Regions from separate parts of the Homo sapiens genome. Here regions 1, 3 and 4 are each linked to region 2. The links come from fine-mapping of genetic effects on gene expression. A gene starts in region 2. Each other region holds a variant in brackets. All regions are shown on one strand. Distances are between the middles of the regions. Region 1 overlaps FGFR2 (fibroblast growth factor receptor 2). Region 2 holds the start of PLEKHA1 (pleckstrin homology domain containing A1). Region 3 overlaps PLEKHA1 (pleckstrin homology domain containing A1). Region 4 overlaps PLEKHA1 (pleckstrin homology domain containing A1).

Region 1 (7,544 bases), 890 kb after region 2:
ATCTTGTGGAAATCTTGCTATATGAAAGTGTAACAAAAATGCAGCAGCTCACAGTAGCGTATCATTTGTAGAAAGGAAAAATCATAGGCCGGGCGTGGTGGCTCACGCCTATAATCCCAGTACTTTGGGAGGCCGAGGCGGGTGGATCACTTGAGGTCAGGAGTTTGAGACCAGCCTGACCAACATGGTGAAACCCTATCTCTACCAAAAATACAAAATTAGCCTGATGTGGTGGTGGGCACCTGCAATCCCAGCTACTTGGGAGGCTGAGGGCAGGAGAATCACTTGAACCTGGGAGGCAGAGGTTGCATTGAGCCAAGATCGTGCCACTGCACTCTAGCCTGGGAAACAAGAGTGAAACTCCGTCTCAAAAAAAAAAAAAAAAAAAAAAAAAAGAAGGAAAAGTCGTAATAGCTAGATCTTTCTGAGACCCAAGAGTTAGTGTCAAGACAATAAATTAGCTGTTCTGCAGCAAGTATTTAATATTTCAGTGTTTAGAATCAGTGTATGTGGCACATTCAGGCTGAGGCCAGGTGTTAGGAGAAACTGGACTGAGAACGTGGATAGACGGGCATTGGCCATGGTAGAGACCAAGAAAGGACATGACTAGTCATTTCAGGAACCTTAGTCATGGGACATGGAGGAGGTACAACAGGGCTAAGTTTGGAAGCGTAGAGACCCGCTAGACGGGCAGTGTGGAAGTCTCAGGGGGAGGGGCAGACAGTGAAGATGGCCTGGACTAAGGCATTAGCAGTGGGAAAGGCATGGTGTGGACACATGGGAAGGCATTTTGGAGTTGAAATCAACAGGACTTGGGAGGAATGTGTAAAGAATACCGGTGTATAGCTCTCCGATTAAGAGAGACAAAGCATTGGAGGAGTTGAAACCTTGAATTTGAGACGTCAAGGGAATGTCAGTGGGGAAGTGTCCCATAGACAGTTGAAAATGAGAACATGGGTCTCAGGAGGGAGGTCATGATGGAGATACGAACTTGCGCATATTTTGTATGTGTTTAGAATTAATGCCTTGAGGATATATGGAAATACATAAACTTAATGGAACAATTCCTCTATTTGAAGGGACAGAAAAAGAGAAGAGCCAGCCAGAGATTCTAAGAGGGCAGGGAGAGACAGAGAGGCAGCTGAGGGAAGGGGACGGGATAAAACTAAACAGAGGGGCTGGGTGTGGTGGCTTACACCTGTAATCCTAGCACTTTGGGAGGCCGAGGCGGATGGCTCACCTGAGGTCAGGAGTTCGAGACCAGCCTGACCGACATGGTGAAACCCCGTCTCTACTAAAAATACAAAATATTAGCCGGGTGTGGTGGCAGGCACCTGTAGTCTCAGCTACTCGGGAGGCTGAGGCAGGAGAATCGCTTGAACCCAGGAGGCGGAGGTTGCGGTGAGCCAAGATCGCACCATTGCACTCCAGCCTGGGCGACAAGGACAAGACTCCATGTTAAAACAAAAAAAACAAAAACAAGAAAACCTAAACAGAGGGACCATTTTAAAAAACAAGCAAGAAATCAATAGCATCTGAAGCCACAGAGGAGGAACAACTGAGGAGTTGGAGGACGTCATTTGCGTCTAACAATTCAGAGGTTCTTCATAAGCTTCAGGAGAGGCAAGAGTGGAACACAGATTAGAATGTTTGAGAAGTGACCAGGAATGAAGAAGACACAATGTTGGATTTTAACCAACGCTTCTGAAAATTCAGGTTTAAAGGGCAGGAGAGCAAGTGTTGAGAGAAAAGATTTTAGGATGATCAGATACAGATCTATAAGCAGCTGAAAGAAAGACACTGGTGTGGCTGGACAACTGGAGGTAGAAGAGAATATGGTTATTTAGTCTACCTTCGCTCTTCAAAATGATCATTCTATTTATTTATAATTCCAAAACAAATACATGTCGTGATCCAGGCTCTCCGATGATCCCAGTTGACCTGTCTTCTTAATCTTAGAGCCACACTGCGTTTTCTTTTCTTTTCTTTCTTTTTTTTTTTTTTTTTTTGAGACAGAGTCTCACTCTGTCACCCAGGCTGGAGTGCAATGGCGTGATCTCAGCTCACTGCAACCTCTGTCTCCCAGGTTCAAGTGATTCTTGTGCCTCAGCCTCCTGAGTAGCTGGGACTACAGGTGCACACCACCACGCTCGGCTAATTTTTGTAGTTTTAGCAGAGATGGGATTTTGCCGTGTTGGCCAGGCTGGTCTCGAACTACTGACCTCAAGTGATCCGCCCACCTTGACCTCCCAAAGTGCTGGTATTACAGGCATGAGCCACCGCACCCGGCCACACTGTATTTCTTATAGTATACCGCAACTGGTTTTTAACATCAGCTATATTTTCTATCTGCATTTTAAGAAATGAACATATTTCCTTTTTGTTCTGGCGGTGTTTTGAAATTAGTTATTTCTCTTGCTTCTTTCTTGATTTCAGTGTATTCATCGAGATTTAGCAGCCAGAAATGTTTTGGTAACAGAAAACAATGTGATGAAAATAGCAGACTTTGGACTCGCCAGAGATATCAACAATATAGACTATTACAAAAAGACCACCAATGTAAGTCGATGGCAGTAACACAGTGGGCAGGGGCGGGGGTGAGGCTCAGAATGTTCCAGGAAGAAAGGCCGTCAATGTTGAGAGCTGGGTGGGATGGCTGGGGACCCATTCCCCTGCCCCGATTCCCGTTCTTTTGACTTACTATTCACAAACTCTCAATATGCAAATTTAGCCTCTATTATGTCAATTTTAGTAAATGTGAAACACTTATATACAGAATAATCAGCAACCGCTAGGATTTTCTTATGGTTCTCATCAAGAACTTTCATAGCAAAAACTACAGCTTGGAAGTTACTGGTTTAATTTTTGCCTAATAACTGGTCAAGGAGCATCTGTGTGCTAGGGAGATAAAGGATAGAATCCAAGGAGATGGCATTTTATTAACGGCCCAGACCTGTGCATCTCACACATTGTTCATGGTCCTCATTGGGACTGATTTCTGCTCTATTGACTGACTAGTAAAAACCGAGAATATCAGCTCTTAAACAGGGCATAGCCCTATTGAGCCTGCTAAGATAAATTCTTTTAAATATATTTAGTTTTTGCATTTTCCTCTACATTTGCAGGGGCGGCTTCCAGTCAAGTGGATGGCTCCAGAAGCCCTGTTTGATAGAGTATACACTCATCAGAGTGATGTGTGAGTAACTCTCTTTTCTCTGGCTTTTTCCTGGGCTTGAGCTGCAAAAATACTGTACGTACTTCACCTTTCTTCCTTCTTTAGTGGCTGCTGCATTTCACACATTCGTAGAAGGTGCAGGAGCTGGCCTTAGAAAGGACAGATTTTATGGTAGGCTGATAACCAATGCTCTGTTACTAATCTGCCTGGCTTCAAAGAGCACAGAAGGTGGAACTGCTG[A/T]CCTCCCCCTGCCAGAGCGGAAGTCCTTCCCTTGAACATATTCATGGATGTGCAACTACAAAGCGGTTATCTAATTCGCCAAGCTCTTGGCATGTTCTTCACTCCATTAAAGGAGTAATCCTGGAGCTTTTCCCACTTACGAGTAGTTTGTCATATTTCCCTCTAACCCAGATTTGTCCTTAAAGAGTGGAGCTGAGTGAGATGTGGTCCAGGCTGGGGACCTCCACAGGGTCTACTCTCTATGTTTATCCCTCAACAAAAAGGTCTGATCTTGCTTTGGCATCCTTGATAGCATTCTAGAAACACAGTAGAATATTTCTATTATGATATACTGACAAAACCAGTGGGGTCAGGCTCCAACTGATATTTTAGATTTGAAAATTCAGTTGAAGGCTGTGTGCAGTGACTCATACCTGTAATCAATCCCAGCACTTTGGGAGGGCAAGGCGGGTGGATCACGAGGTCAGGAGATCAAGGCCATCCTGGCCAACATGGTGAAACCCCGTCTCTACTAAAACTACAAAAATTAGCTGGGCGTAGTTATGCGTGTCTGTAATCTCCACTACTTGGGAGGCTGAGGCAGGAGAATCGCTTGAACCTGGGAGTCAGAGGTTGCAGTGAGCTGAGATTGTGCCACTGCACTCCAGCCTGGCAACAGAGCGAGACTCTGTCTGGGGAAAAAAAAATCACTTGAACTATTTTTTATTTGTATGAGCAGGAGGAGTTCTGGGTAGGCATTAATTCTGTGCTACCATAGTTGGTCCTCTCAACAATCCTAAAAAAAAGACATGACTATCCCATTTTTGCTGTGAGCAACTGAGGCACAGAGGCTGTTCTGCCTGTCCTGTGCTGCTGCTTTTGCTCTGTAGAAAACTGCGGAGTGAAACACCACCATCGAGTACAGAAGGTTGAGTTTCCAGAACGACCATGATGTAGCTAAACCTGGCTCTCTCAGCTTGCTCCTCCCAGAGATTGAGCCTCCTGAACTTGGCACAGGAAGTCCAAATCTCTGAAGAGTCAAGTGTAAATAAATTATGGCCTGTGAGATGTGTTCAGTTTTGTTGTGTGCAACTCATCTGGGGCATGTGATTCCTCATCCTAACCCCAGCCCAGTGCTGATTGCCTTTGCGATCTTAGTAAGTTCCAGAGCCTCTGTGCAGCAGATGTTCCGCCAGCCACACAGGGCAGCTGTGATCCTGCGGAGTTGGCTTGCTGGCCTTATTCTGTCAACTGCCCATCCTGGTAGATCACAACCCTTGGGTCAGGCACATAAGGAGTTGGAAAGGAGCGTAAAGGCTTTGAAACTGAGAAACTGAGATCCTTGCATTGCTAACACCACATTTAAGACAAGCAGCTCTATTCCAGAGTGATGGCAGTTTGCCTTTTTGTCTATTGATGGAAAATTCCATCAGCACATCCCCGTGTCATCATCATTCGGGGATGCTCTTGCAGGGCAGGAAAGAGCACATAGGAGGAACTGCAGGAGGGCCCATTTGTCTTTGAACTTCAGAAGTGAGGAGGTGTTTATGTCTCAGCTGGGCGTGTTTAGGTTTTGGCAACGTGGATGGGTTAGTAATGCCGTGCTTTCTCCTTTTGTTGCAGCTGGTCCTTCGGGGTGTTAATGTGGGAGATCTTCACTTTAGGGGGCTCGCCCTACCCAGGGATTCCCGTGGAGGAACTTTTTAAGCTGCTGAAGGAAGGACACAGAATGGATAAGCCAGCCAACTGCACCAACGAACTGTAAGGGCTGTTGTCTTTCCTGCCGGTGCCCCAGTGGACTTGCCACACCAGTAATACCTCTCCTGATGTATCTCGTTTTTGAAGGCCCCTGGTTTCCTAAACATGCTCTAAGAAGAATGGCTGAAGCTCTCTGGGCTCAATCCAGAGCTGGGATACATAGCGACACCGACAACCATTACTTGTCTGAGAGAAAGAACATTATTCTGAGTATGGAGAGGGCTTTGGATCAGAGGGTGTCTGGCTGCCTGGCTGAGGGCTCCTGACTTTGCAGAGCCAGCAGGAGTGGTCTTCCTGGGCCACTGTGCTGCACCTTCTGCGGTCTCCCGTGGAGTGACAGGAAGACCCACGGGTCAGGAAACAAGCTAGAAAGCCGCGGGGCCGCCCTGCAGGGTGTAGGATTAAGGAACCAACACAGCCTTTCCCTGGTGGTTGTGCCTGGCCCCCGCCTGGCCCCATCGTGGCCAGTAGAGAATCGGTGTTTCCAGAACTTCTCGAACCATTGAAAATTGCCATTACAGATTGACGCCAACCACATTTCCTCAGAGCGAAGGAACTCGTGTTTGGTTACCTAGGTCTCACTTGTGTTTTAGTGCAGAGAATTAAACATGTGTCCAGGCGCCCTCCTTACTGTACCAGATCTGCCTGTAAAACCATGAACTGGTTTGTAGCAAAACCTGCCTCACACTTTAAGTGGAGTTATGTTGTGTTTGTGACGTGTGCCTGGTGCAATAGAATCAGTGCTTTGAAAGGAGTCTCTCTGCCTCCTGCCTCAACCCCTCCAGGATTAACTAAGAAGAGTGATTGTCCCAGAAACTGCGGTCTATTGTGTATCATTTCATGGGGATTTTATATCAGTAATCCCGTGAGTGCTTTTCGGTGTACCGTGGATGTCTGATGAATGGCCACATTTTATAGCATATTATATAAAGGCATTTATTGTGCTCTTTGTCATTCCTATTGTTTTTTTTCTTTTGTAACGTAGAGGATCTGTCGAAACCCAAAATCAAGATAAGACCTGGGAAGCTAAGCCTATCTAAGAGTTAATCAGGAAGTTAGTGTGCAGCCCAGTGGTGGCAGATTAATTCATCAAAAACTTGAAGTTGTAGTTTTCAAATTTTATTTAATTTTTTTTTAACTCAGGAAGCTGTGTCAACTAGAATCATTAAGACCCAAAGCACCGGGCAGATAAATAGTGGAGCTGCTTTGGTGCTGGGCAGGGTGTCAGGGGAGGGAAGACTGGAGACCAGCCCATGGAAATACGCATTTTCCTTCAGCCTCCAAAGCATCTTTAGGGTGTGACGCCATTGTGAGATGTCACTGTGGCCCAGGGTTACCAGGGAAAACACATAGCTGTGTCTTTCTTGATGGCTTCGATGCCTTTCTAACATGTTTTTGTAAGTCAAAGTGCCTTTCGGAGGAACTGGCAGGGAAGCTTTTGGGAAAGTGATTCATGACCCCCTAATCTAGTTGCTTGGAAGGTTCTGATGCATTTTCCTAATTTACACCACGTCCCCATATTGCCTATTAAAACTGACTATAACCACGTACCCAGTGCATATGAAATTAATTCAAGGAAATCCATTTTTCCCAGGTACATGATGATGAGGGACTGTTGGCATGCAGTGCCCTCCCAGAGACCAACGTTCAAGCAGTTGGTAGAAGACTTGGATCGAATTCTCACTCTCACAACCAATGAGGTAAGAACTTCCTTCTAGAAGCCCCTTGTCCTTGGTTGTCTTGTGAGACATGCGTAGTGTTTTACACACACACTCCCCTGTTGGCTGTTGGTTGGAGTCTGTGGTCTTGTTTATTCTTTTTCCATAGGGTCAGATAGTTCAACTATGGGTTCCTCTCAAATCATGATTTTTCTCAGAACTTCATTTTGTGAGTTCTGACTCATGAAACCAAAGACAGAGGGACATCCCCGAGGCTGCCTTCAGTGTAGCTGCTGGTGGAGCAGTCCGGGGTATGTGGGAGAGTGGGAAAGGGGAAGCAGTATTCACTTGCATTTTGGTGTGCATGGGAAAAAGCTTGGATTCCTGTGCAAGTTTGATTCTGTGCTTTGGTCATTAGTGGGTAAACTGATAATGTTCGTCATCATTTGCTTGATGGAATACAATGAAGTTTTCTAACACCAGCTTCTGTTACCACAGTACTATCCTATGTGATCCTGTTGGTAATGCTATATGCCTTGCAGCCTCTTTCTAGGTGTATATAAACATACACTGTTTTCTACAATGAGCAACTTACATGATTTTTACATAAAAACATGTACCTTTTGTTAAAATATTTATTTTCCCTAAAATATTTATGCTCTCGCCTGTAATCCCAGCATTTTGGGAAGCCGAGGAGGGCAGATCACCTGAGGCCAGGAGTTCGAGAGCAGCCT
Region 2 (7,544 bases):
CAAATAGATCCCTTAAGAGGGAAAGGAAAGAAGTATCCCAGGAGCTTACCACAAGCCGTCCATACCCCAAGTGCTTCAGTAAGTAAGTGGCCTGACCACAGGGTAAGGAAGGGAAAAAAAACCTTTAAATTGAATATATATGAGATTGAATGTTCAAACTGGAATAGACTGCAATTTTTTGTTTTTGTTTTTCTGTTTTTTTTTTTTTTTTGGAGACAGGGTCTCACTCTCCTGTCACCCAGGCTGGAGTGCCACAGCACAGTCTCTGTTCACTGGAACCTCTGCCTCCCAGGCTCAAGGGATCCTCCTACAACAGCCTCCCAACTAGCTGGGACTACAGGCACATGCCACCACGCCCGGCTGATTTTTCTATTTTCTGTAGAGACAAGGTTTCGTCATGTTGCCCAGGCTGGTCTCAAACTCCTGGGCTCAAGCTATCCTCCCACCTCGGCTTTCTGAAGTGCTGGGATTACAGGCATGAGCCACTGAGCCCAGCCTAGAGCTTTTTGATAACTGTAAATGACAGAAAAGCTATCATTTACCCATGATGTTATGGGGGGTGGGGGACAGGGGGGTGGGAAAGAGCCTACAAAATACAGTTAAAGGCAGTGAATAGTGAAAATTAAAACTCATTAAAACTCTTGTGTTTGTTCTCAGTAAGCTTGGACTGCTGAATAACCTGATGACATATGCAATAGCATTCTCATCCTTAATAATGGGAGGGAACACCTGACATGGAAATTCTCAGGAGGGATTTACTGTACCGGGTAAGATGCTACATTAGAAGCCCTCTGACATCACTTCCAATTCTAGTGCCTGTGATCGTCTTTTCCTTCAAGAGGTTAAATTCAATCCAGAATCTAGAGTTCAATGGTTAAACCATAAAAGGCTAGGCTGCCTAAAGGGCTAAAAACCACAACTTTCTGGAGAATAAAGCTATCAGACTGACAAGCCTGGTAAGAGTTCCATGTAGGAAACAATATTTTGCTCTAAAACTTATTTAACTTAAAAAAATCTTAAATGACTAATTTTCTTTTATATCCAACAGAAATTCCAGTTCAAAGAAAGCTTATAAAATCCCAAAAACCCTATCTTCCTGAATATTATCAATTCAACTAATTAAAAGGCTTACTAAAATAAATAGCAAACATATGTTTGCTTAAGCATCTTCTAGGAATCACAAACTCACATATCCCTTATTAGACAGTACCCACAAGAAAAAAAGTTACTTAGGGTCAAATGGTTTAATATTGCTCAGTAAGTGTAAGAGAGTTCTAGTGCTATAACAAATAACAGGATGCTTTATGTTTACATAAAAACATCCCATATTTTTATGTTTCTAAAAATAATTAAGCATTATAAACAATCATCTAAAGCTACCAAGTTTTCTGCCCTTTCTGAAAGCATTCCTTTCAGACACCATGTCAATAAATTCTTAAATGCTGGATGTGTACTCACAAATGGTCAAAAAACCTAAAACCAAATCTTAATATTTAACTCCTATTGAAGTCATTTTATTGTATCATTGCAGATCTAAAACAAGATTTTTTAATCTTGAAATTTAAATTTTAATATTAACAAAAGTAAACTGCTCCAGCATGAGAAAAGTAATTATTTGCATATTACCTCAGCTCACAGTTGGAATCAAATAGGAAATACTTTAAGGCAGTTAGTTATATCAACCCAAAATTTTCTAATAAAAGCAATGTTACTATTGTCACAAATAATTACTACACTATATTCAGAAAACTATCTTCCCCATTCTCAAATAAGTTATTTAAACAATAATGACTTGACATCAAGCAATATGTCAATGTCAAAGTATGACTTAAATTATATTAATAAACTATTTATTAGATTTCATTCTGGGTTACAAATTATCACACAATTAAAATAACTTCGGGATTTGCAGCATGACTAATAATAATAAAGAACTTCCAGGCTTAAGTCAAAAAGCCACTTTGTTTAAATCTCCATTAAATGTTTTTTGTGGGGGGAAGTCCCCATAAAAATGTAAAATGTTTCCACCTTTCCCAAGTATCTTCCTAGGAGTGGTCAATATTGTCATATCCTATATGTTAGCAAACGATACTTGAATGACTTTTAAAGAAAAGAATCCAATGCTATTCTTAACATCCTTAAACACTTCTAAAAAGGTCCTTCCGGCTTATGAACTCATGGCAGTTTCCTCACAATTGTATACTTATCCTGTTTCACTGTCTCTCCTAGTCTATGACAAACTCAATTTTACACACCATCTTTCCTATTTTGTTACACTGCTAAAACTGGGGAGAAAAAAAGATACAAACCTGCTACTTTCCCCCCTCCCAAAGCGACAATGAAAATACTAATTAACAAGATAAAGATTGGAAGCTCTGCGCGCGCCCGCGCGGTGTGTATACACATATATTTATATTATATATATATATATATATATATATATATATATCTTCTTAATGTCACTAAATTCACAGCCATATATCTTGATACAGGTATACGCTACAAGAGAAAACTGTCAGTAGATACAGTGTAAGGTTTACGGCAGTATAAAATAAATTAACTACTTTATTAATTCAAATTCTGTCAAACTTAAATACTCTTTTTTAAATGTATCAGTACTCTAAAATGCAATTTTCCTTGGGAAAATTGGCCAAGATAAAAAATACTTTAACTCCACTAGGGGAAATATTTCTTTTGCCACAAGTGTGTCAACAGGAAAAATTAAGAGCATGAAAAGTAAACAGGTATTTTGATCAGAATAAATCTTATTATTTTAATATAACGGGTCTTCAAGTTCTTCAGATTGTGAAGAAAAACACAGTTTCACAAAACAATCACATAACTCTTACCCAAACTTTGCTGTAAATGGTTTCAGTGGCATCAAATTAACATAGAAAGTATGCAAGCTGAGTACTTGGGAAAATAAAGCAGATTGATCAGGAGTTCTAAGATGAAAGACAATGGTGTAAACCTCATAGTGCACTATTTGTTCCAGTCATTAAACACACAGGAAATAAGATTTTCTATTTAGAAAACTAACTCACAAGGGGCAATGACTTCATTAAAACAAAGAAAATCTTATTAAAACAACGATCAATTGTAAAATAAGAAAACCAGTACTGCAGAATTGGAAGGTGAAACAAACAGACGAGGAAAACGCAGAAACTGCCTGGATATTTATTTGTTCCTTGAACCTCTTCTTGTACTGCCCCCAGAGAGCAAAGGAGTTTCATTATTTATACGCCCAGACCACGGTAGATGCTCTGCGCGGGGGCACAGCCTCACCAGAATTCTACCAAAGGCGGTAAACACTATAAGCAACAGGACCGCTTTCATTATGACACACTTTCCCCTCTTTCCAGGAGGTCAATAGAAAGCATCTGAAACAAACCACAAACCACTCAAGACGGCCCCAAAGCTCTGCGGTTGGCAGCTGGCCTCGGCGTCGAAAGACCTGGGTCTGGTCGCCTCCCCGGTGCCACCTGCGTGACCTTGGGCAAGTCGCTTTCAACGCTGCCTCTGGCCACCTGCCCCGAAGGTGCGGAGGTAAATCGCGGACACCGCCCGACTTCAGGGCCCAGGGCGGAGCCGGCTTCGGCCTCGGCAAGTCCTGAAGCCAAAATGCATTAAACACCAGGAAAGGATGCCCGGGGACGCGCGCCCCGCGGGCACAGCCCTGGAGGGAGGCGCTCCGACCGGCGCCACCGGGAATCCCCGGGCAGCTGCGCGCACCGCGCCCCGAGCGGGATTTCTCGGGGGGCGGAGACGCCGAGGAGCTCGTCGGCCCCGCGACCGCCGCGGGCCTCCCGCCCTCCCCCGCCGGGCGCCGCTGAGGGCTGACGTCGGGAAAACAATCGGGGACCCACGGGAAGAAGACGCCGCCCCCTCCCGCTGCCCCAAGCCAGGGCAGGTGAGCCGGCCCGGCGGCCTCCAGGTGCTGTGGCGCGTGGCGCGGACGTGCGCAGAGGGGGCGCCGGCTCCGCACTCACCAGCACCCACCGCCCCTCTGCGGACGCCTCCCCGCTCGCCACAGCGGGAACCGCGCTCCAGCAGCCCGGCAGCCCCGCAGCCGCCGCCACCTCGCGCCTGGCCCCGTCCACCACCCCTGCTCCAGCGCGGCCGCGTTCTTCAAGCTAAACTTTACCGCGGCCTCGGCCCGGAGCACCCGCGCCGCCGCGGCCCCGGCTCCCACAGAGGCTCGGCTGCCCGGAGCGGCGTCCGCGACGGCCAGCCCGCGCACTGCGCACGCGTCCCCACGCTGCCTCAGCCCTCAGACGGCGGCTGAGATTCCGGAGCGGGCGCTCCCAGCCCGCAGAGACTACGAGTCCCGGCAGGCCCCGCGCGGGTCCCTGCGGCGTGGCGGGCCGAGTTTCTGGCGTCTTCCTGGTTCCAGCGGCGGCGGCCTCGGCGCGCCGGGGAGGCCTGCGCGCGGAGCTCTGGGCCGCCGCGCCGCGGTGCTTCCTGGTATTCGTAGTTTTTGACCACCACTGGGCTTGGCTCGGAGGTAGAACTCCGGGTTCTCTGATGTCATCGCCTAGAGCTGCGAGGAACAGGGATCTTTAAAAATAGGCTTCGTTAGTTTGCAGATAATTTGTTTGCAAGCTGTCCCATAATCGGTCCAAGTGTCACAAATTTACAGGCTGCGGTGTGACCTGGAGAAAAACGCTTTACAGCTCTGCGCGCCAATTTTTCGCTCTTCTCTCTCCCTGCAAATGTAGCTCCACTGCCTACTTACAATGGTGTTAATAGTACAGGAGGGTAAGAGAGACTTAAAGAAGGGTTAGTCGAAATTCTTTCAGCAACGGTGGAGCATAAATATGTATTCTGGTAAATATTCGTTGAGTGTTTAGCAATTTCTCGAGCACTTAACTGTGTGCCAAGTACGCGATAGGCAACCCGGCATTCATCTGAGAAAGAGACACTGTCACTGCCCTTATGGAGCCTGCAGCTTGGGGGAAACTCGTCCGCAAACTAGCAAAATCGTTCCAGATTTTAATAGAATGGCCAGACTGAGAAAGTTCAAGAGACAGTAGCGGTGGCGGGGACGGGGGGAGGCTCTTCAGAGAGAGTGGCAAGGCAAGTTCTCTGAGGATGTGATATCTGAGCTGAAACCTGAAGAATGAGAAATATTCAGACAGGCAAAGAACTGGGAAAGAATTACATGCCACGCCTTTCACAGCGCATGCCACTCTAGGCTCTTAATAAATATTTGTTCTTTTTGTGTGCTTCTTCCTTTCCTCTCCTTGCACAACCTTAGATCACATCCTATCCCCTTCAAACCCTTTAAAAAATCTTTATCAACATCTTTTAGAATATCCTTCCTATGTGAAAATGTACATGAAACAAATGTCCAGTGGTAAGACAAGCTGTACAGCTGCTAGGACAGAAGACACAACCCTGGTGACAGGCTGGAATCTATCTACTTTGCCACTTTCTTTATTTGCGAACTGGGTTAGAAGTCTGGGGGCTCAGCCTGGCCTCCTGACTTGTTTCTCTTCATGGGGCATCATACAGGATTTTGAGTTTGTCTTTATTAAAATCTTAGAGGAAGCCTACCTGTTATCTGAATCAGAGGTGTAGTGAAGAACAGCCCTAGATTTTCCTGTGTAGACTTACCTATGTGACTTTATGCAGAGAGTGACACTTTGCCCTTCTGACCCTCAGTGACCTCGACTGTAAATGAGTGTCATCCACCCTGCCTGCCTTGCAGAATGTTCTCAGAGTCTGATAAATTGATGGAGGTGAAAACATCTTGCAAACTGCATAGAACGGCTCTCTGACTGCCTCTTTGAGACTTAGCATTTTCAATTGCCTTTCATCCAACGTGATATTTTGGTTATCTTTTGAGAAACCTTAGCTATGCAGCCTTGCTGACATCTGTCCCTTTTGGGGTCCTCATCTGTATAATGGTTGAAAGGGTTTGGCCTCACTATAGTTTATAAAGTAGCCAGAGCAGATTGTTTCCTTTGGTCCACACAGTGGGTTTTTGTTGATTTAACTGAATGTGTGGTTAACATTTAAAAATAAAAATCTAGGTGTCACCTGTCTTATCCCTGTAGGCATTTGAGTTTGCCTTCCCTGGCTAGAAGGTCTGGAAGGAGTCTCTAGCTTGTCAGTGCTAGAATCCTAGAAGATTCCAGATGGGAAATTTGTTTATTTGAAATTCAAAGTCAAATTCACATCTTTTATTTGATCTGAAAATACTGGTCCTGAGAATAGAACACTTAGGCCAAGAGCCTCTCACCCTCTCCAGGCTGGACCCGCCGGATCTCTCTCCTAAATGTTGTTTGACATCATTGATGAGTGGTTTGAAATTGTTCCTTTGGCCAATGTGATGGCTCCTGCTTGTAATCCCAGCACTTTGGGAGGCCAAGGTGGGCGGATCACTTGAGGTCAGGAGTTTGAGACCAGCCTGGCCAACATGGTGAAACCCCCTCTACTTAGCCAGGCATGGTGGTGGGCACCTGTAGTCCCAGCTACTCGGGAGGCTGAGGCAGGAGAATCAACTGAACCCACGTGATGGAGGTTGCAGTGAGCTGAGATCGTGCCACTCTACTCCAGCCTGGGGGACAGAACGGGACTCAAGAAAAAAAAATTGCTCCTTTGTTCTTTTTGCATAACAAGTCCCCAAAACTGTTTATCATTGAGAGCCATATTTACATACAGTAAAGAAAGCCAGAAAAGTAACTCAGTTTGCCCAAGGACACACAACAAGATAATCCCAGGACTGCTTTGAGGTTGCAGTATAACCAGAACTTCATAGCTCCCGATCAGCCAATAAATACAGAGACAAAAAAAAAAAGCTCTCTGCTTTTCTTCCAGCCTCTTTTTTTTTGGATGCAGAGGTTTATTACATAACAGTGCTTTCAGTGCTATTTAAAAAAAAAATAGTACAGGGAAATTACAGTCTGGGAGCAAACCAAGAACACTCAGGACTCACTGAAGGCACTGAGGAATGCTGGAATATTCCATGGCTACTTTTCATCTGAAGAAAAAGGAGGAGTCTGAATTCAAGGATCTATAGTTTAGCTGTTTACTTTTTTTTTTTTTTCTGCCGGAAGGGACAGAGTCTCGCTCTGTCGCCCAGGCTGGAGTGTGGTGGCACAATCCCAGCTCACTGCAACCGCTGCCTCTGAATTCAAGTGATTCTCCTGCCTCAGCCTCCCAAGTAGCTGGGATTACAGGTGCCTGCCACCATGACAGGCTAATTTTTGTATTTTTAGTAGAGTCAGGGTTTCTCCATGTTGGTCAGGCTGATCTCGAACTCCTGACCTCAAGTGATCTACCCCCCTCCTCAGCCTCCCAAAGTTCTGGGATTACAGGTGTGAGCCACTGCCCCAGCCTGCAGTTTACCTTTAAAGTATCACTGTCATCATTATCATCATGCTTTGCACGTGTGAAGTACGTTGATGTTTCATTCAAAAATAGCTCTTGGGCCCCTTCCATATGCTTAGTGCTGGGCTCTGGGGCTTCCAGACAGACGTCAGCCCCTCTGACAACACAAAAAGCAGCGTACAGAGGCACGCAGAAAGCTCCTGAATGCT
Region 3 (7,544 bases), 52 kb before region 2:
TAATCCCAGCACTTTGGGAGGCTGAGATGGGTGGATCACCTGAAGTCAGGAGTTCGAGACGAGCCTGGCCAACATGGTGAAACCCCATCTCTACTAAAATACAAAAATTAGCCAGGTGTGGTGGCATGCACCTGTAATCCTAGCTACTCGGGAAGCTGAGGCAGCACAACTGTTTGAACCCACGAGGTGGAGGCTGTAGTGAGCTGAGATCACGCCACTGCACTCCAGCCTGAGCAACAGAGCGAGAGCCCGTCTCCAAAAAAAAAAAGCAGTACTTACTCAAACTGGTCTATAATTCAACGTCGGAAACTAAAGATTCTTTAGAGAGGTGCTTATATCTATATCCCTATGATTAAATGTATTCTCAAATTTGTTTTTTAAAACATATATATTGCACAAGTAGTAGAATACCAGCATTCTGGTATCTCTAACATAAAATCCTATCTTAACACATTCAACTATTCTACTGAAAATTAATTTTATCACAATGTTTAAAATCAGTCACGTAGGACTTTTAAGCACATTAATCTCAAAACATTCCTAAACAAGATGAAAAAACACAGGCACTTGAATGTAGGCTATTAGTGACAAAAAGTAGAGGTCACAACAATTTCATGACTAAGGGCAGTTATGTCTTTACATATAAACTTGAGGTCTTTCACCAATCCAAATATAGAAATAACAACTATTTACAAAACTTGGATAAGAAAATCAGATCTCCCAAAAATTTCCTACCAAATAATTTTTGCGGAATAAAGCAGTGACTGCTCCAAGGCCTGATGAAGCTTTTTCAAACAAATGTCTAAGACACAGTTGTTTCAATTCTAGTTTTCTTCTTTTCTCTATGCCGGTATAACCCACAACCCTTACTGTTGGTCTATCCATATCCTCTATGCAAAATAAGTCACCTCAAGATTCAGGGCATCAAAAATGGTTATAATTTCAAAATAGTCCACATTTTAGTATAAATTTTACAGCACCACAGACATCATGAGTTTAGGTATCTTGGTCTGGCAATATTTCATGTGGTAATATCAACCAATAAGAATGTGTAAATATTGAACCTTTAATAGGAAGTCATTGTAGCATTTTTTAAATGACCAAAGTTATTAATAAGCATTTTTAATGCTTTAAGTTGTTAAACATTTAAACTGTCAAAATCACTAAGAAAAAAATATTACACATACATTGTTACCACCCGAATGAGAACACACAATGCTTCAGACAGATGATACTGAGATATTTTGGATTTTTCCTTTTTCTTTCTTTTTTAAAGAAATTATATTTAGTTTGGCCACTCCCTAGATTCTTGGTTTACCAGCTTATAAAGAGTACACCTAAGAGGCAGTATAATATACGCACTAAAAACCATTTCCCCCTTTATCATCTTTGGCTAGAAGCCTCATGAAAGGAAACTGAGGACGGCAGAGGCAGGCAGGCTCCGTGCGCTTCTGCCTCACACGTCACTGACCGGAAGGCTCGCATCGTCCAAGTCTACTAGGTCACAATCTTTTTCCTGAGGGCCATTTTTACTTTGAGGTCTTAACAGAGCTTGTTCAGTCACTTTGGAAGCTGGTTCTCTTGGAGAGACAGTCTGGACCTTGAAGTTCCCTGGCTTGACCTTGGCAAGAGACTCGTAAAATCCTCGCTTCTCCATGGTAAAGGTTGAGACCAAAGAGTTGCTGCGAGAGGCTGTGGAATGTGAGGTGGCGGTGGCTGCGTTGGTAGGACGGAAAGCGTGTTTGGATTCTGAAGGACCGGGGGGATGCTCCTGCAAAAAGGAGTGGCAGTCAGACACGGTCAGTCACTCATGACCAGGTTAGTAACTCAGTGTGAGACTTGATTCTCTGAAAAACAAATAAAACACACACACACACACACACACACACACACACACACAAAGGCAGCAGCAGAAGCCATGCAGCATAAATGTGCAAGTTCTTTCCCAAAGCAACGCGTTTTTAGAGGTGAGTTTAAAGCAATGATAGCCAAAAACCATTTCCACTAGGAAACCAGTTCCGTCACCAAAGCTGAATTTGGCAGCCTATGACACTTTGAAGATTCAGCCAACCTAAACTGAAATACAGTGTTCCAGCTGCAACTGAACTGTGTTTAAAAGAGAACCTCCCAGCTGTATCATTTTATTTAAGAGTATATTCTCAGTCAACACTAGGAATTATCCCACATATTTTAGAATGAAAAAAATTAAAATATAGACTATAACAATGAAAGGCCATATTTCTTTAATAAGCACGAATCATCTTTCAAACATTATTCTGCTGATAAGACTTAGTTTTTACTTCCCTGAATTTCACTGCAACCAATAATAGCACAGTCTTTTCATTTTTTACTTAATTTTAGTTCTGAATAGGTCATATATTCATATGGCTTAATATTTTAAAGGTAACAAAGGGTACACATTTATCACATTTTAAACTGTGGTGAAATAATTAGTAGTTGAGAATGTTAATTTCAATATGCTTCTAACTAGATCAAATCTGAAAATATCCTTAAATATGACCATTCTAAATACATTGCTATATACTAGTATATTATATTCATTTATGATACCAGTGGCTTTGAAATCAAAGTGCTACAAATTACCAAAACACTACAGAGTCCTATTAGATGGCTAAATTTCAGAGATTTTTAAATGCCATGCAAACTATAGTAATGTACAGTTTATCCAATGCATATGCATGCATTAGTTTGCATATATTATTAGAACAATGGTGCATTTCGTAAGTATTGTATCTTAAAAATTTTTAAATACATAATATAAAATTGAAACTCTTGCAGCAGTTGAGTATATTAATTTTTATATGTTAATGTCTCTTTCTGTTAGTAAAGTTGTATGTTTTATTTTTTATTTTTAAATACACATATCCAACCTGATGACTACAGTGAAACAGTTTGCGTTAGTATTGACAAAATCAGTTATGATAACTGCAAAAGGCAGTTTGGTTAACTCAACTTTCTATGATCAGTTGTAAGTAGTAAGTCTGGGCCCTCCACTAAGAAGGCACGTTTGCGTGAGAGCCCACATACGTGCTGCATTCACCAGCTCTTGATGTATACCTCTGTATACAAGGGTTCGACAGCCTTCTGGCCTGCCGCATCTGGAACACAGTGCAAAGCTAAGATTAGAGTTAACCTATACTGGGTAGAGGGAGGAAAAGAGAAAGTTGTGCTGACAGTCATAGCTAGATAGTCCAATCTGCCCCCACCACAAAGCACAAAACACAAACATCCTTCTCCAACTTTTCCTCTTCCCAACAGACACTGTTTTTGCAGAGAGTCTCATACTTGACTGCTGAAAAAGTCACATAAAATACAGGCAGTTACAAAATGAACATCTATGAAAGTGACTTCTTAGATATTTCAAAAAGGATATAAAGAGAGAATGACTTAACAACTAAGAAATCAGAAACATTGATTTCTATTTATTTATCTGTAGTTATCACTACCAGAAAACTAATAAAAGGCGGTATTATAATACTATCAGAAAAAAATATTAAAAGTGTAAGTAACTAGCATATATGTCATAGTAAATCTAGATAATAAAGGCTATCATGCTACATATGAGACTACTTTCCGCAGATGGCAGTGTTACATTTTAAGATACTTTAAATTTTCAGACCTGAGATCAGTGGC[CAAAGTA/A]TTCCAAATGCAAATCTAATTCTTATGTACTTGAACACAAGAAAAATCTTTTAAAAAAATATTTCTGAGCAGAATGTTTAGTTGTATTTCAATTTTATTATCATACTACCACAAAGATAATTATGGTAGTTTTCAGAAGCAGGCTGTTAAAGCAGGTTTTAAAATGAGAATTAAAACATGAAATGGAAACACTGGGAGCACTGAACTGTATTTAAGGCCCCAGCTGCTCAGTGATCTGATGGCATGGTTAAGCCAAAGGTAAAAAACAAAACAAAACCAAAAAACCTGAACTGAAATCAGAGGAAGTAAAGAGGAAATTGAGACGTTCACAAAACTGTGTAACGCTACAACTAAAAGTCTTACATGATCCTGATCACACACCATACTAAGAATCTGTCAGATTATGCCAAATCTAGAGCTACTGACAAGTAAGAACTCCTAAAACAAAGCAAGGAAATGTTTATTCTTTAGTTGCCCTACTTGTGCATTTAACACAATACAATGCACAGAAAGTTATGTATACATAATACTACAAGGAAGCATTAAATTAGAAATGCATTATTTTTTGCAAGTCCAATTGGTATAAAAGTCAACATGCAAATAAATCTCAAGAAAGAAAGAAACCGGATGGATTGGGAGAGAGGAAATTTGATAGGATGGGGGAGACGCAAGGGAGTATCACCCCAGAGAGCAGGAAACCTACAGAAGACGCAGATCTGCCGGGACCCCGCTGTGCTACAATGGCGCCAGAGACTGCTTTAATCCAACTGTGCATCTCTTCAGGGCTATCAGCCTAAAGGAAAAAAGAACTCATTCAAACAATTTTTTCTCAAAATCACCTACTTCTATACAGCCAATGTATTTATTTTGATAACTTAAAATACTGTCATCAACAAAATCACTCTAAGGCAACTGTTTCCAAAAAATTTAGAAATCATTTTTTTAAAGCCAGGTTTTGCTAGGTCTTAACTACACAGAGACATAAATTGAGCACTTCAATGTCAAGATCAGACCCATCAACAGGCGTCAATAATGAATACCTCCAGACAGAAAACAAGGAGAGGAGGAAGTCCAAGAAAAACCCTTCTTATTTCACTCTACCTACTGCTACACTGTCTGAATCTGCTACAAGAATATTTATGTAGTTGTGTAATTTTTAAAAATTCTGACATTCTTTTACATATTTTTCTGGAAATAATTTCTAGTAGTACCCTAAATCCTACAATAAGTATTGACAGATACGTCTGGCTTTCAATGTGAATTTTAAACCTTACTATGAAATTAATCCAATTAAATAAGGCCCCAATCGGGGTGCAGAGATACTGCCTCTTGTTTCTAGATTCTAGAATCCCTTACACTTCTAGAATCTAGAAATATGAAAAAGTTTAAAATGCAGAATATTTTTGAATAAGTAATATTAACAAAGACTAAAAAAAAAAAAAAATACAAGTAGCCAAAGGTAGAGTATACTTCATTCATTACTAATGGAAATACAATTCTAGAAATCAATTTGACAAAATAGAAAGGGTCATGCTCTGATAGTTAATCTCGATCTAGAAACTTACCCTAAAGAAATCAGGCAAAGTAATGCACAAAGATGTTTTTCATCATTTTATTACAGTAAATGTACAAAAACTATGCACATGAACAGAGTAACACAGACACAATACAGCAACAGAGTAATACAGACACAATTTACTGGTGGAACATCAATGGAGTATGGTGCAGTTCTAAAAGGTTTTCAGATAATTTTTAATGACATGGGAAAAAAATAACAATATATGAAACAAATAGGATATAACACTATATTTAGTATGACCCCACCTATTATAAAAATATATACCTTAAGAAAGGGAGCAAAATCATAAGAATGGTTGCCTCAATGTGGGACTGAATGTTTTATAAGCCACATTTTTCTGAAATCTTTCTATATTTTCCAAGTTTTCTGGAATAAGCATATTTAACTTCAATAAAACAAAAACAAATCATCCCTTTTTGATTTTTTTTTTTTTTTTTTTTTTGAGACAGGGTCTCTGTCACCCAGGCTGGAGTGCAGTAACACGATCTCAGCTCACTGTAACCACCTCCTGGGTTCAAGCGATTCTCGTGCCTCAGCCTCCCAAGTTGCTAGGATTACAAGCCTGCACACCACCACGGCTGGCTAATGTTTGTATTTTTAGTAGAGATGGGGTTTTGCCATGTTGCCCAGGCTGGTCTCGAACTCCTGGACTCAAGCGATGTGCCTGCCTTGGCCTCCCAAAGTGCTGGGATTACAGGTGTGAGCCAACACAGCCGGCCCAAATCTTTTTTTAAAATTTTCCATTTAAATAATTCAATGAAGTATGCAAAAAGTACAATTTAAACTTAAATACAGGATGCCTACTATTAGTGAAACTATATAAATCTACTGTCTACTTTTACTATGGGTTTTTTTAATAAGGTTACCAAAAAATGATATAATAGAAAAATCAAAATTCTAAAACATGTGCAAAAATAATCCAACTTGAAAGTACACACTTAACATCTAAATTAAAAGCATTTCCCTTTCTCTAAATACTTAGTTCTAGTTCACTAATTCATAACAAATACTCCCACTTCCTGAACATATAACCCCACCAATAACTCTATATACAGTACCCTTTTATTAAGCTGGTGAATTACAGTTGTCATATTTTTTTAACCTCAAGTGCAACAAGCTTGTTTATGTTTATTTCACCTCTAATATTATTAATTTCTTTTTAGGAGGATCTATTAATTGCCAAATAAGCATCTTACCTGCACATAGAAAGTTCGAGACGTTGTTACAATTTCAAAGAGGTTGTCCCTCATCATTATGTCGCTGTATGAAAAAAAAATCCAATTATACTTAAATAGCAGTTGTTTGAGTTTCTCTTTCATTTGTTTACCCAGTACCCAGTATGCGTCAATAAATAAATGAGGTAAAGCACTGATTTAGCAAACCCAAATTATCTTTTCCCATTTATTTTAATGTAAGATTTTACATATTTCATGTAGTTTCACTTTTAGAAAAAGTTCACAAAGCAACTTTAAAGTTCAGAGTTTTTAGTAATCAGTTTGGTGAAACACTGTCACAGCTAACACATTTTCTTGTGAAGCTCTATTCTACTGCATCTTTTAAACACTTAATACATCAATTTGTCAAATCTGATGGCCTAACCATAAGTTGTTCACATTAAATTTATTCCTTTCCATTAGTAAGCTGTTTCTGTATTTTTAGTTTTCAAAGAAACAAATAAACGATTCTTTCCTAATTTTTAGTTTTCAAATGAACAAAGTAGTTCAATACTTTACTCTGAGGGTTTTGAAAATTCTAGTGTATCTCAACTATAAAGAGTTAAAAATAACTACAATTAATATGGAAAAATGTAATCTGTAAGTACATTACTCAAACTAAGGCACTATTCTGTGTTTATAACTTGTGCCAGGCATCAAGTCAGAGCGGTTCCTTACCTTTGCTTACATTCCTGGACTTTATGAACCTCTTTAAGTGGTATTACACGAAGAGGTTCCTTTTCCTGGCAAAAAAAAAAAAAAAAAAAAAACAGTTACATGATGTTTATTCTTAAAATCCTTTCAAAGGTTAGCTGTCTTATTTGAAGACCCATGTGAAAATCACACTTCTTTTCTGAAGCACATCTCAGAAATAAATCTACCTTCTTAAACCATCCAGCATCTGAATAGCTCAAACACTATAACCTTATATACACTGTTGTTTGAAACAAGAAAAACTGCATACGGCCCTTATTCACATTATTTCTGGCCTTAAGGGCAGTGTAACTAATTAAAAGCTATTAGCCATCAGACTTTCCCCGACGGACCCACGTACCAGTATGCACAGCATCTCCTTTTCTGGAATGTCACTT
Region 4 (7,544 bases), 30 kb before region 2:
AGTGGCACCCACCTAGACTCAAGTAAGGAAAGTCACAGACTATAGCGTTAGAGGATAATGGATTAAAATGGCAAGATATTATAACTAGGAAATAGTTTAAAAATCATCATTCCCTTACCCATTGCCCTCTAACCACCTCTATTTTGAAACCACACACTTCCAAACTCTAATTTTGGATTTCCAAAATTTTAAAATTTATATATCACACAGTACTTAGCAGACCACTAAATTAGAGTTGACCAAAATGAGAGTGATCCCATAGAAAGATTTATGTATTAAGTACATACATCAAAATGTACATTTTAAGTTTTCAAATAATCTACATGTAAATCATCAGCAATGTTCACAGGAAAATATAACAAATTGGAGATTCCACACTTTAATACACTTAAATGTATAAAATGCACATGAAACTGGTAAGATATTTTTAAGGAATAAAATTAACATAAAGCATCTTATTAAAGCATAGGAAATTATTTCATTGCTATCCTATGAGTTAAATGTGTGTCTATCAAAAGTTTATTTTTAATAAGTACTATCAAATCTATACTCACTTTAATGCAGTTATAACCACTTTATTAAGTAATAAGGATTTCTATAACTTCTATGTATTTATATTTTCCAAATGTGAATTATAAAAACATTAAAATCATTTACCAACAAATTTATCTTAAAAACTATAAAAATTTCAACAGGTAAAATAAAATTGCAAGACCACAAAAGCTACTTAGAAGTCTTTTTAGAATTCTATTTAGAATCTCTAACCTGTTTTTCCTTCATGCTGAAAAGCTTACCAGTGTCATTTGTATAAGACTGTTTCATACCATTGATAAATCAGACATAGCAATTCAAGACCCCCCAAAATGGTAAAAAGCCTGAGACCATTCACTACTTTTTCTCTTAAAGCACTAAGAAACCAGTGCTGCTTGTTATTGCAAATGGTAAAACATGAATTTAGTACAGTTACGAGATATTATCTTTCTAAAGAAATTTTTCAAGCAGGGAATATTTATTAGAAGAGTTAAAATGATTAGCTAAAAGCTTTTAAGAATATGTATGTCTGAATCAGGTTAAAAAATTGCTTTCCTGACACTGCACAAACCTAAAATAACTTCTGCTTCATGTACAGATCAGATGCGGTGCGTAGGCGTTTTCTGTCATGTGGTAACAAGCTGTTCTAGAGCAAAACAAAAAGATTCGACTAAACTCTGAGAACAGCTTTAACTATATTGACTCTTTATTGTGTTGTGATATAAATAGGAAATTATTCATTTTAGATGGAAACTAATGAGTGACTAACATATGCTGACTTTCAGGGCACATGTTCTTTGAGAATAAGTCACTTAGGGTCAGTATATAACTGCACTTTCTTTAAAAAAAACAAAAACAAAAACGCAATTGACACAAATCTCACAACACAAGAACTCCTTCCCAACATTTTCCAGGCAGGCCTGCTATGTATTTCTCTACAAAAGTGTAAAGGGAAAGGTGAGGCAAGGTATAATCAAAATAGAGCCTATCTACGTGCTGCTCATCATCACTAGCAAACTCTCTCAGTAAAGGTTGTTGTTGGCTTTAGGAACAAAAGAGTAAGGAGAGGGCTGTTCTTGTTCAGGAAGCAGTAAGGCACTGCACTTCAGAGTTCGGGCTCCAGAGGCCAAAAAACTGGACTGGGCTTCCAGCTCCATAATCTACCAGCTATAACACTGGTAGATTAATCTTTCTAAGCCTCACTTTTCCAGTTCATTTAAGTAAAACCTTCGGTCTAAGATCTGGCACAGTGTTAATAATCAATAAATATTCATCAGGAAACCAAAAAAGAAAAGAAGCACACATTAGAAGCAAGAAATTGTAGCATGGGAAAGGAGGGCAAGGGTACCAAGCCCTGGAATGCAAGGAAAAAAATCAGACATGGGAAGAAGTTTAGAGCCTGAGACAAACTTCTCAAGGGTCACATGGACAGGACCCTCTGGCTGCCGCAACCCTTCAGACACTATTCCTATCCCTAACCCTCATTTTTCAGCCTTCATCTCCCCTTGTCCTGCTCCTGTTTTCAACTCTTTCCCTATCTGACCCCAATCCCAGTCATGGCTTAGAAGAGAGAAGTGCCTATTCCCCAGGTAGGTGACAGGAAATCTCTTACACTATATTGGAAGAAAAATATATATCCTCCCGGTAGAACTCTACGTGCTAAGCGCATTTTCTCCTAGAAACGTTGCAAGAAGTGATTAAGATCTGCAGTAATATATCTCCTTATTAGGTGCATAAGTTAAAAAGACAATCATGGGCTGATTAAAGTGCCAACAGTCACCAAGTACAAGAAAACATATTCACATTCTGAACACCTGTCTTTTAAACAAAGCTTGAGTATGAAACCTGTTGGTAAGCTGGGAACATTTGGTAGGTGTATTTTCAAAATGAAAAGATTAATTCCAGACATCGAACGTTTTTCAAAAAAATACATATACTTACTGTAATTTTTATAGCTTTGTTTAACACATTTACCCATTCCACTAGGTCCTGCTGATCATTGGCTTGTAGGAAGTACTTCCTCATTCCTGCATTCATAACTGTTGACAGAAAAAAATAACACACCAAATATTGTACTTATTACCTCTAAATTTATGTTTGCAGTAGCTGAAAAACCTTGCTAAGTTCAACACCGTGACTCTCGTGGATTTGACAAAATATATCAGACCACATGTAATACAGCTTTTATCACACAATAACACAGGTAAAACTCTTATTTTGTTATGGCCATTTTGTTTATTAAATGGATACACCACAATACATTTAGTCAATCCCCTAATGATAGACACTTAGGCTATTTCCGGTTTTTGAAATTATATAAAATATCACAATGAAACATCATATACATATATTTCTCCACACTTGGCTAGCATTTCTGGGTGATAAATTTCTTGACATAGATTTGTTGGGTCAAAGACAATTGACATTTAAACTTTTTATAGGTATTTCCAAATCATCTTCCCACAAAGTTGAATCCATTCACATTCCTACCAACCACATACACATTTTATTTCATCGAATACCCCTCACCAGAACTGGTTGTTAGCACCTGTGGATACCTCTAGTTTCTAGTTTTCAAAGGCTCTGTGGCACTGGGGCTGGTAGTCTGCAAACAATATTTCCTAGACCCCATCTGAGGCCATTCTCTGCCACTGGGAGGTACTGATGAGAGACTGTAAGGTGGGAGAGGGGAGAAGGAAAGAGGAGACTCTCCTTGACTCCTGCTGTTGTTGACCTCTCTCCAACAGCAGCACACAACTAGCTACTGTTAGGAGCCTTTTCCTGCCCCCTATGCCAGCCTTGCAGAGTCCCCTTGGATACTAATAGCTCCATGGTGGCTTCTACTCCACTGCCCTAGGTTATAGTAATACTACTACCCCTTCTCTTTTGTCTCTCTAGCCCTTGAGTAGTAGTTGCTTCATGCGTCTAATTCCTGGGTTACTTCAGCATTCCCTTCATGTTCTTTCAGCCTTCCAATATTTGGGTAACCAATTCCCCATAACAAATCCCTTAGGTTTGAAATATCTAGTGTGCTGTTTTCCTGGCTAATACTCTTTAACAACCTAATTGGTAAATAATTGTACCTTGTTCAAATTTTAATTTCTTTGGTTATTGAGATAAATTAGTTTTGTAAGTTTATTGGCCATCTGCATTTATTTTGTAAGTTTTGTTTACTTTCTTTACCCACGTTTCTCCTGAATTCATTATTAATTTATAGCAACTTCTTTATTAATCTTTTCTGCTTTATTACCAATACTTTACCCAGTCTGTTTTACTTTAACAGTATTTTTGATCAGACAGAAATATACTATGAATCTTTTCTATAAATGCATCCAGATTTCATATCATCTAGAAAATCTCCCTAACTTAAGATCTATTTTTCTAGACCTTATGAATTTCCTTTATATTTTGAATCTTAATACATTTGGAACTTTTATGCAATTTAGTTTCTATATTCCCCTTTAGGGACTAGGTAC[T/C]TTTATCAAGCAAAGCACATGTGCACATACAGTTGTCTATAAACTATCATAGTCCACTCTTGAATTAAAGCTATTTATTATACACCATCTGCATTTATTTTTAAAAGCATAAATATTATTCTAGGAGCTAAGTATCTGAATAGTTATACTGTTGCAATTGTTCAAATATAAAAATAACTTCCAAACGTCTCCACCAAAATTTTAAAAGATATACTAGCACACAGTTCAATGTGACTGAGAAGGGGAAATGCAAACTCTCAAGGAAAACACACAAGATTTTGAAATTGGGACTGAGACCAAAACACTCTAAACTACAGCTTCCTTGAATTGAGATGAAGGTCTCAGAAAGGAAGTCAAAGCCTATCTTGTAAAGTGCTACAAAACAACCAGTCTATAACCTTAAAAGAAATTTAACACACTGGAAATCTGTTCTTGTACATCTTTCTAGAGACTGGAAAAGTTATAACTGCCATAAATATGTATTAAGATAAATCCATAATTCACTAGGATGCTATATCTATCAATAAATAACTTGTTTTTAATTTCTAGCCATCGGTAAGGCTTCCTTTTATAATCTTTTTTCAGCTTAGGCTGAAGCAGAGCTCTCCTCATTCATAATGGCTTCTTCCCCTCAATGTTATTTTGGGCATCTGCCCAGAATATCTGAAGAATTTAAAAATCTATGCACTTACTAATATACTACACTTGGTACACAGTAAATGCTTAATACATATACTTTTGAATAAATATATAAGGATCTTTTCTAAGGGAAGGAAGAGATGCAAATATATATCTAAAAAAGACCCCTAGTATACCTTGCAATCTGAATAAAATCTCATGTACTTTAAGAATTACTTCATGGCAAGACGTAGATATATAGGTATGATCTAGAAAAAAAAAATCAGTCTGGAATCAATCCAACCTGACTAGCTTATGCACTTACAAGCAATATCATCTTTTAAACATTATTTAATTTCTCTGAGCCCGATACTCCTCATCTGTGAAATGGGAATGTCACTCATTCCACCTCCTTAAGAGGTGACGATCATATATGTAAAGAAACTAACACAGTGCTTGGTATAGAATATTCTTCACTGCCATCATCTGGAGATTTCTAAGGAGTAAGGAAGCACTATAAAAAATGTAAAGCAGGGCACAGTGGCTCACGCCTGTAATCCCAGCATTTTGGGAGGCCAAGGCAGGCCAGTCACTTGAGGTCAGGGGTTCGAGACAAGCCTGGCCAACATGGTGAAACCCTGTCTCTACTCAAAATACAAAAATTAGCCAGGCGTGGTGGTGGGCACCTGTAATCCCAGCTACTTGGGCGGCTAAGGCAGGAGAATCGCTTGAACCCAGGAGGTGGAGGTTGCAGTGAGCCAAGATTACACCATTGCATTCCGGCCTGGGGGAGTGAGGCTCCATCTCAAAAGAAAAAAAAAGGGGAAAGCAAGTTACTGAAATGTGGTGTATTAGCAATATTGGTGGTGAGGGGAGAAAGGGAAAGAAATAAAATCTTTGAACAATAAAAAAAAAAAAACTCTGACACTGCTAAGTTGCCATAAAAACCCTAAAGCAAGGGTTTCATTGTGAATAATACATGCATCCCTAGAAGCTTGTATCCTTCCTATCTTTTCCACTTGAGTATTTAACTTCAAATCTTTATGATTAGAATGAATACATAAAATGGATAAAACTTGAAGCATAAACATTAGCTTAACTGCAAACAAAAATCATCTCACAACCTGAGATCAACTGGTTATGAATATACGGTTTTGGATCAAGAGGTTCTAAGGTATTTTATCATATTCTTTGTCAATTTTCCCCACTCTGTTTTCTCTATTCTGTACTTTCCTCTGTCCTCTCAGTCTCTATCAGATGTTGGACTTCCTTGATGGTTTTTATCTCTTTTCCATTATCTATCTTTACCTTTGTTGTACTTTCAGATTTCTTTGACTTTTTCAAAGAAATGCAAAATGAGTTTTGCATTGTCTCATGTTCCTTCTCCTGTTTGATAATCCGCTCTCATCAAATGTTCAGTAATCCTGGGCTGTCTATTCATATTTTAAAAGAAAGTGCTAAAAAGACTGATGAAAAGCTCTCTTGCATTGTCGTAGGGCTGTTGATTGTGGACCTTACTAGTCAACTATGGCAAGCTCTTCTAGTAGAAATGCCCAGATGTCAGTCAGTATCTATGGATCTTTTCTCTAGGGTAGTCAGATCTTACTCACCTAAACCTGGCTGCCCAGTGCTCTGGGGCTGGGGTTGCACTGATTGTGCAGACTTTCATTTAAGATATCTTCCTATTTTCAGTTTCGTGCCTCATTCCTTTCGTTCTCTGGGACTAGTGCCCCTAAATATACAGCCTCACTGATTCTATTTCTGGAGACACCACACATCCCATTACCTGCTGGGACAGAAGAAGGGTGTCTGCCCGATTGGAGGTAGGGAACAGAGGTTGTTTCTGATACAGATATGCAAACAAAGTCCCTGTTTTTGGTCCTTCCTCACTGTTGCTTCCCCAGAAAATGTATCTCCTATACCTAAGCCTATCTAGAGTTGGGGTGGGGGCAGAACACTTAAATGGTTAGCTTTTCATTGGCCTCTTCCTCCACTCTGCTAAATTATCTACCATTCCTCTATCTACTTTCCAACTTTATACACTGAGGGTTACAGATACTCTGCTCCCTCCATCAAAAATGGCTTGCACGTTTCTTGTTCTCACTGGTTTGGGACAATCTGAGAGAAGATATGTTGCCACTTTGAATGAAAGTTGTGGTTCTATTTTAGAAGTCAGTGCTTCTCTCTCTGAAGGTAAGCATTTCATGAATCTTTACTCCCACTAACAGTAGAGGACTAATAAACTATTGCCTGACCAATGAACGACTAATCTTAGTTTTTGATTCCAACTAAAATCACCCATTCTAAATACTCCAATAACTATGAATGTCAAGTCTATTACTGTATGTTACTATTCCTGTAAGTTTGAGATTTTAGAAAAAAAAGGGTTGTCAAAAGTATGTGCATTATACATTCTAAAATACAAAGTTCTCAGTTATTTGACTTGCAATACCCATTCAATTACAAGGCTCTGAGGCATTTTCCTGTTTCGTAACCAAAATTATAATTAGTAATAAACATGTAACTTTTAAAAATAGCTTCATAGTGAGATAAAAGCATTTTAGAGGATTCCCTTGACAGCCACGTTTCATCTTGCTCATATCAAGATGCTATTCCTAACTACTGCCTAAAGAAATCTGCCCTTTTCAAGCAAAAGAGAGCAAAGAACTTCAATTCTACTCCCAAAAGTATCTCTCACTTTAATGTGAAAGTCTCTTTTGATGTTAGTTGACCACTCCAAATATTCGTTCCTTCAGTCACTCATGTCCACTAACATACTCTCTGAGAGGGTATCAATTCTCCTAGCTTCGACTACCACCCACTTTTCAACAGACTCCGAATTTCTCCATTCTTGACCCTAAAGCTCCATCCAGTCCTCGATTACTGTCAACAGAACATTTCCATTTGGAAGTTCCCCAC

The links.
Region 1: its variant is fine-mapped to the expression of PLEKHA1 in ovary (GTEx, PIP above 0.99).
Region 3: its variant is fine-mapped to the expression of PLEKHA1 in whole blood (TOPMed, PIP above 0.99).
Region 4: its variant is fine-mapped to the expression of PLEKHA1 in whole blood (INTERVAL, PIP 0.98).

The regions. Positions count from the first base shown.
Region 1 is chr10:121,483,006-121,490,549 of GRCh38, reverse strand. FGFR2 (fibroblast growth factor receptor 2) reads left to right here. Exons shown (of 18, transcript NM_000141.5): 14 at 2,437-2,559; 15 at 3,126-3,196; 16 at 5,018-5,155; 17 at 6,747-6,852. Among named protein-coding and RNA genes, the nearest start is that of FGFR2, 110 kb to the left of the region's middle. RefSeq lists an enhancer at 4,948-5,481. The variant A/T (reference allele first, on the strand shown) is at 3,416.
Region 2 is chr10:122,371,407-122,378,950 of GRCh38, reverse strand. PLEKHA1 (pleckstrin homology domain containing A1) reads right to left here and starts at 4,243. Exons shown (of 12, transcript NM_001001974.4): 1 at 4,145-4,243. RefSeq lists silencers at 3,636-3,835, 3,846-4,005, 4,026-4,095, 4,136-4,245, 4,386-4,535.
Region 3 is chr10:122,423,851-122,431,394 of GRCh38, reverse strand. It overlaps PLEKHA1 (pleckstrin homology domain containing A1), which reads right to left. Exons shown (of 12, transcript NM_001001974.4): 9 at 7,132-7,196; 10 at 6,436-6,499; 11 at 4,364-4,453; 12 at 1-1,771. The coding sequence ends at 1,457. Among named protein-coding and RNA genes, the nearest start is that of MIR3941, 11 kb to the right of the region's middle. The variant CAAAGTA/A (reference allele first, on the strand shown) is at 3,655.
Region 4 is chr10:122,401,602-122,409,145 of GRCh38, reverse strand. PLEKHA1 (pleckstrin homology domain containing A1) reads right to left here. Exons shown (of 12, transcript NM_001001974.4): 5 at 2,473-2,570. Among named protein-coding and RNA genes, the nearest start is that of MIR3941, 12 kb to the left of the region's middle. The variant T/C (reference allele first, on the strand shown) is at 4,008.